Homo sapiens: one gene and its partner. The protein of the gene in region 1 interacts with the protein of each later gene in a biochemical or structural test. Each region holds a gene or a part of one and is shown on either strand. Other genes may lie near its edges.

Evidence for each region. The genes of interacting proteins can lie anywhere in the genome.
Region 2: the proteins of UBR1 (region 1) and UBE2B form a complex in vitro, tested with the Homo sapiens proteins (2 studies listed by BioGRID and IntAct, with this or other methods).

What each region holds. Positions count from the first base shown.
Region 1 is NC_000015.10:43,019,039-43,022,538, forward strand, and holds part of UBR1 (E3 ubiquitin-protein ligase UBR1), read right to left. Parts: intron 2,338-3,500; coding exon 2,237-2,337; intron 1-2,236. UniProt on the Homo sapiens protein: E3 ubiquitin-protein ligase which is a component of the N-end rule pathway. Recognizes and binds proteins bearing specific N-terminal residues that are destabilizing according to the N-end rule, leading to their ubiquitination and subsequent degradation.
Region 2 is NC_000005.10:134,378,069-134,381,568, reverse strand, and holds part of UBE2B (ubiquitin-conjugating enzyme E2 B), read right to left. Parts: intron 851-3,500; coding exon 761-850; intron 1-760. UniProt on the Homo sapiens protein: E2 ubiquitin-conjugating enzyme that accepts ubiquitin from the ubiquitin-activating enzyme E1 and transfers it to a E3 ubiquitin-protein ligase. In vitro catalyzes 'Lys-11'-, as well as 'Lys-48'- and 'Lys-63'-linked polyubiquitination.

The DNA of each region.
Region 1 (3,500 bases):
TTCAAGAAGAATTTTAATAATATCACTATCTTTTTTTTTTTGAGACGGAGTCTCGCTTTGTCGCCCACGCTGGAGTGCAGTGGTGTTATCTCGGCTCACTGCAAGCTCCACCTCCCGGGTTCAAGCCATTCTCCTGCCTCAGCCTCCTGAGTAGCTGGGACTACAGGTACCCGCCACCACACCTGGCTAATGTTTTTTGTATTTTTAGTAGAGACGGGGTTTCACCATGTTAGCCAGGATGGTCTCGATCTCCTGACCTCGTGACCCCGCCGCCTCAGTCTCCCAAAGTGCTGGGATTACAGGCGTGAGCCACCACGCCAGGCCAATAATGATATTACATCATGCTTAAGGACTGTTTCTAATAAAATGGTAAGAAGAGCTGCCCTCTTAAAAGTATAAATCAGTACCAAGATTTCCAATTGATAAGAATGTGAAAAATAACTACTTTATATATTCTGATTATCAAAACAATACTTACCTAAAAACATCAGAATATCTTAATGAATGCAATGAGTGCAGAAGCTCCATAATCCTGGCTTCAGGTTTTTTTTTTTTTTTTTTTGAGACAGAGTTTCACTCTGTCGCCCAGGCTGGAGTGCAGTGGTGCGATCTCGGCTCACTGCAACCTCCGCCCTCAGAGTTCAGGCGATTCTCCTGCCTCAGCCTCCTGAGTAGCTGGGATTACAGGCGCCTGCCACCACGCCTGCCACCACGCCCAGCTAATTTTTTTTTTTTTTTTGTATTTTTAGTAGAGACAGGGTTTCACCATCTTGGCCAGGCTGGTCTTGAACTACTGATCTTGTGATCCACCCGCCTCCGCCTCCCAAAGTGCTGGGATTACAGGCGTGAGCCACCGTGCCTGGCCGGTTTTATGTTTCTATGTGGAGGTTTTCCATTAAAGTAACATTCCTGGCCTCTCTCTCCCCTGCTTATTTAATTCACTCGTCTCCAAAGGCAATGCTATCTACTCAATAGCTCAAGCACCAAATCCAGGAGTCATCTTTGATTTCCTTTTTTCTGAGACAGACTCTTGTTCTGTTACCCAGGCTGGAGTGCAGTGGTGCGATCTTGGCTCACCGCAATCTCCACCTCCCTGGTTCAAGCAATTCTCCTGCCTCAGCCTCCCAAGTAGCTAGGACTACAGGTGTGCCCCACCATGCCTGGCTAATTTTTTGTATTTTTAGCAGAGATGAGGTTTCACCATGTTAGCCAGACTGGTCTCGAACTCCTGACCTCAGGTGATCTGCCTGCCTTGGCCTCCCAAAGTGCTGGGATTACAGGTGCTAGCCACCATGCCCAGCCTCATCTTTGATTTATTTCCTTCATCTCTCCCATCAGACTGATGAGCAAGTACTATAGATTTTATCTTCATACACCTTCGACATGCACCTTAATCAGTTCAGATTCTTACTATCTGCATCTTAGCCTAGGTCATGCTTATTTCATATCAAGATTACTGCAACAGTCTCCTAACAGTTTCCTTACTTGTATGCCTATCCCCCATAATCCATTTACTCCACAGCAGCCAATACCATCTTGTACAAATATAGATTAGGTCACTTAAAATCCTCCAATATTTTCCCATTGTCCTAAAAAATTATCACTTTATGCTGACTTATAAGGACCTACAAGATCCGGCCCCTGGCCACCCCTCTGATCTCATTGCCCACTTTTCCATCCCTCACCCATTATGTTCCAGCCATACTGACCTTCTTTCTGGCCACCACAGAGCTTTTGCACTGCTGTTCCCTCTTCCTGGAGTACTCTTCCAGACTCTTCTAAGACTGACTCCATGTCATTAAGGTCTTAGCTCTAATGTCGTGTTTTGAGAGAGGCCTTCCCTAATTACCCAAAGTAACCCCTTACTCATCTATTGAATTACCCTGATATTTTTGTTTATTTATTTGTTTAATGTCTGTCCCTCAACTGGAGTATATGTTCCATGATAGTAAGCACCTTGTCTGCCTTGTTCCATCTAGAAATCTATAAGTGAGCATGGCACATGGTAGGTTTTCAGTAAAGTTGACTAAATAACGACAAAAAAAATGAATAAATCTTAGTTTATTTTTAAAACTACAATAAAATATAGGAAAATAGAATTATTAACATGAAAAATAAGTGATTATGAAAACCAGTAGTAAATGTCTACAATGGTACAGTGGTTTAACACTGGAGGCAAGCAGAGAATTCTTAAATATTTAAACCAAGATATGATCACTTTACTTTTTTAGTTTACCTGAAGTATCCACGTTATCATGTCCTTCTGGCCTTCTAACTGGGGAATTCCTTTGAGTTTTTCCAAAAGCATTTGTATATTCATGGCTGAACTTCCCAATCCTTTTTTAAAACACAAAATCACACATCATAAATACATAAAGTCATCTCTTGGTATCCTCAGGGAATTGGTTTCAGGACCCCTGTGGACATCAAAGTCCACTAATGCTCAATTCCCTTATGTAAAATGGTGTAGTATTTGCATAAAATCTATACACATGCTTCTGTATGCTTTAAATCATCTCTAGATTACTTATAATGCCTAATACAATGTAAATGCTATGTAAATAGTTATTAGATAATATTGTTTAGGGAATAATGACAAGAAAAAAAAGTCTGTACATGTTCAGTACAGTGACAACCATCCTTTTTCCTTTTTCCCCCTGAATATTTTCAAACTGCGATGGGATGAATCCCTAGATATGGAACCCACAGATATGGAGGGTCAATTATGTCTTCATAATTATGTACAAATTACAATTTCTAGTTAATGTTATTTACATTGATAACCAAGGTTTGCCAATCAATCCCTTAACTTCATTAATTATTCAATGGACAAATCTGCAATTATATGAAGTACTGGATTACAATGATATGATCTACTAAATTTAAAAATGACTTTAAGTCTCTCTCTTACATCTTTTACTGGCACTGCTAAGTGAAAGCTACCCTAAATATCTGTCTCTGGTCTTTCCTCTGCTTGACTCAACATCTAAGCAAAAGTGCTTAATGAGAAACAAAATTGCCAAAAATATTGAAGTGGAGGACTGTATATCCATAAACTGAATAGGTTTTTGATGTCTTCAGGGATCTAAAAAATACAGCATGTAAATAGAAAATGTTTGTCTCCTATTGTTTTTATAATCAACATGCCTGGAATGTGCTTTGAAAAAAACTATCTTAATCAGGTAGCATTTATTAGAAATCTAATTTAAAACTATCCTTTTCTTCCAAGTTGAATACAACGCAAAATGAACGTTATCATTCAGATTTCTATCATTTAAAATTCAGAAACAATATCTTATTAAGACATGTCACTTGAATGCTATGGTTGACACAGCAGCAAATATTTGATAATACTGAGATGAGGAATGAAAGTTAAAAAATACCAATATATGCAACCAAAAAAAAAAAAAAGTGGGGCGATCATGTAGTAAAAAGATTGTAGTAAAGATTATAGTAAGGGATTAAAAAATATATTAGTATACTTGAAAATATTAGTTACA
Region 2 (3,500 bases), on another chromosome or scaffold:
TGGAAAAAATGGCCCATTCCTGTAATCACAGTGCTTTGGGAGGTCAAAGTGGGAGGACTGCTTGAGGCTAGGAGTTCAAGGACCAGCCTGGGCAACACACAGAGACTTTGTGTCTACAAAAAAGAAAAAGAAAACAAACAAAAAAATTAGCTGGGCATGGTGGTCCACACCTGTCGTCCCAGCTAGTTAGGAGTCTGAGGCAGGAGGATTACTTGAACCCAGGAGTTTGAGGTAACAGTGAACTGTGACTGTACCACTGCACTCCAGCAGGGGTGACAGAGTATAACTTTGTCTCTGAAGAAATAAGAAACAAACCAAAAATCCACAACAAACCCAGCACTTTGGGAGGCCAAGGTGGGCAGATCACAAGGTCAGGAGATCGAGACCATCCTGGCTAACATGGTGAAACCCCGTCTCTACTAAAAATATAAAAAATTAGCCAGGCGTGGTGGTGGACGCCTGTAGTCCCAGCTACTCACAAGGCTGAGGCAGGAGAATGGCGTGAACCCGGGAGGCGGAGCTTGCAGTGAGCCGAGATCGCGCCACTGCACTCCAGCCTGGGCGACAGAGCGAGACTCCGTCTCAAAAAAAAAAAAAAAAAAAAAAAAAAAAATCCACAACAAAATACGTGGCTCACATGGACATGGAAGCAACACCTACAAGTGAGCCCTAACAGTAAAAAGTAAGGTGAAAGAGCTAAAAGGAGGGAAACAACTCTTTTCCCCACTATCATCTGCAAAATCTATAAAATGCTACTTACCATTTGGATGAAACATTTTGGATAAAAACCTAACAGTTGGTGGTTTATTTGGATATTCTTCAGAAAATTCTATTACTAGTTTAAAAGTACCTAGAGAGAAAACAAAATAATTATAGTAAAGACAAGCACGACTTTTTAATCTCTTCATCAGTTCTCAACTGCATACTGGTTTTTGTACAACCACATAAAAGTTAGTATGTCAACGTTGGTTCGGCATACAAAACATCCTAAATATACTCTATTTATGTTAGAATGGTAACACGCAGCATTGGCAAGCGGTTGGGGAACAAGCACATTCATGTTGCTATTGGTGGGAGTGTTAACTGTCATATTTTTGGAAGGCAACTAGGCCCTAGCTACCAAGATTTAAAATGCATATTTGAAGAACTACAAATAGTTTATTATAGCTTAGAATGGGAGTTGGTTAAAGGATTTTGAGAGGGTCTGACTACCACATGGCAAAGGACCCTCCCAGGAGGTGGAGGTTGCAGTGAGCCCAGATCATGCCGCTATGCTCTGGCATGGGTGACAAAGCAAGACTCCGTCTCACACACACAAAAAAACTTTAACTCAGAAAATCTTCATTAAAAATAACTGTAGCCAGGTGGGGTGGCTCACGCCTGTAATTCCAGCACTTTGGGAGGCTAAGGTGGGCGGATCACCTGAGGTCAGGAGTTGAGACTAGCCTGGCCAACGTGGTCAAACTCCACCTCTACTAAAAGTACAAAAATGAGCTGGGTATGGGGGTGCCTGTAATCTCAGCTACTCAGGAGGGTGAGGCAAGAGAATTGCTTGAACCTGGGAGGCGGAGGTTGCTGTGAGCAGAGATCGCGCCATTGCACTCTAGTCTGGGTGACAAGAGCAAGACTCTGTCTCCAAAAAAAAAAGGTAGGTTAAACTGCAAACCCATTACACAGAATATAAATTAAAATTATATTTCTCCCCAAGTTGGTGATAAGTGTAAGCAATGTTTTACATATTTGCAACTGTCTCTTTAATGACTGGCTTAACAGAAGATAGCTGGATTCTCTTATCTGCTTCTGCACTCCATCTATTACAATACCGTTTAGTTTAAGTACATGAAGAAAATCTGGCCTCACACAAATATGTACTTGAAAAAAGGAGTACTTTCTTTCTTTCTTCCTTTTTTTTTTTTTTTTTTGTTGAGACAGAGTCTCACTGTTGCCCAGGCTGGAGTGCAATGGCACCATCTCAGCTTACTGCAGCCTCCGTCTCCTGGGTTCAAGCAATTCTCCTGCCTCAGCCTCTGGGGTAGCTGAGATTACAGGCACGTGCCATCCCGCCTGGCTCATTTTTGTATTTTTAGTAGAGACGACGTTTCACCATGTTGGCCAGGCTGGTCTTGAACTCCTGACCTCAGGTGATCTGCCCACCTTGGCCTCCCAAAGTGCTGGGATTACAGGCATGAACCACTGCACCCAGCAAAAAAAGTAGTATTTGAATAGCTTTTTCAGGTGACTGTAGCTATTCTGTTTTGATATTATACCAAAGAAGAAATGGTAGTTCTTTTAAAGGTTTGCTGCAATATAGAATCTGAAATTATTAGTCAACTTTTTGTACTCAGTTACATTAAAATCTGTTCACTTCACATACGTGTTTTACCCATTCATGGTTTTGTATTATTATTCATGGGACATCTGCAAAATATTGGGTGACTCGAGTTTACAGATCCTCCAAATGTTGCCATATTCCATTATATACTATCAAAAAAATCACAACAGGTAACACTACCCACTAATCTCATCAAAAAGTAAGTATCAGGAAGCTGTTATTTTATCAACAGCAACAAATATCTTCAGTTGCTATCCTTAACCTAACAACCCACTTAGATCCCCCCACTGTTTTTTTTTTTTTTTTTTGAGATGGAGTCTTGCTCTGTTGTCCAGGCTAGGGTGCAATGGTGCGATCTTGGCGCACTGCAACCTCTGCCTCCCAGGTTCAAGCAATTCTCCTGCCTCAGTCTCCCGAGTAGCTGGGATTACAGGTGCCCGCCACCACACCGAGCTTATTACATTACTTCTGAGAATATGTCTGCCATATATTCAAACCTGAATAACCACAGCTTGTCTGTATTTTCAAGTAAAAAATGTTCCATGAAAAAAAGTCATTCAAATTGCAACTCAAACAACTGTAGAAGTGCTTTTCTTCCAGACAACTATCATACTATGACATGCAGAAGTGCTTTGTTCATACATTCTACTTCATATCATACAGAATATTAAAAAGACAGATACTCGGCTGGGTGTGGCTCATGCCTCAGCACTTCGGGTGGCCAAGGTGGGCAGATCACCTGAGGTCAGGAGTTTAAGGCCCCAGCCTGGCCAACATGGTGAAACCCCATCTCTACTAAAAATACAAAAATTAGCCGGGCATGGTAGCACATGTCTGTAATCCCAGCTACTTGGAAGGCTGAGGCACGAGAATCACTTGAACCTCGGAGGCGGAGGCTTCAGTGAGCCAAGATTGCGCCTCTGCACTCCAGCCTGGGTGAGAGAGCGAGACAAAAAACAAAAAACAAACAAAAAAAACCCACATAGATACTCAAGGGTCCAGAGCTTCCTAATACTAATAAAAATGTCTTTAAATTAAGAAATTAAGAAAAATTGGTAACTTTTTTAAAGACAAGGTCTCACTCTGTCACCCAGGCTGGAGCTCAGTGGCTCCACCAGGGCTCACTGCAGCCTTGACCTCTTGGGCTCAGGTAATCCTCCCAAGTAGC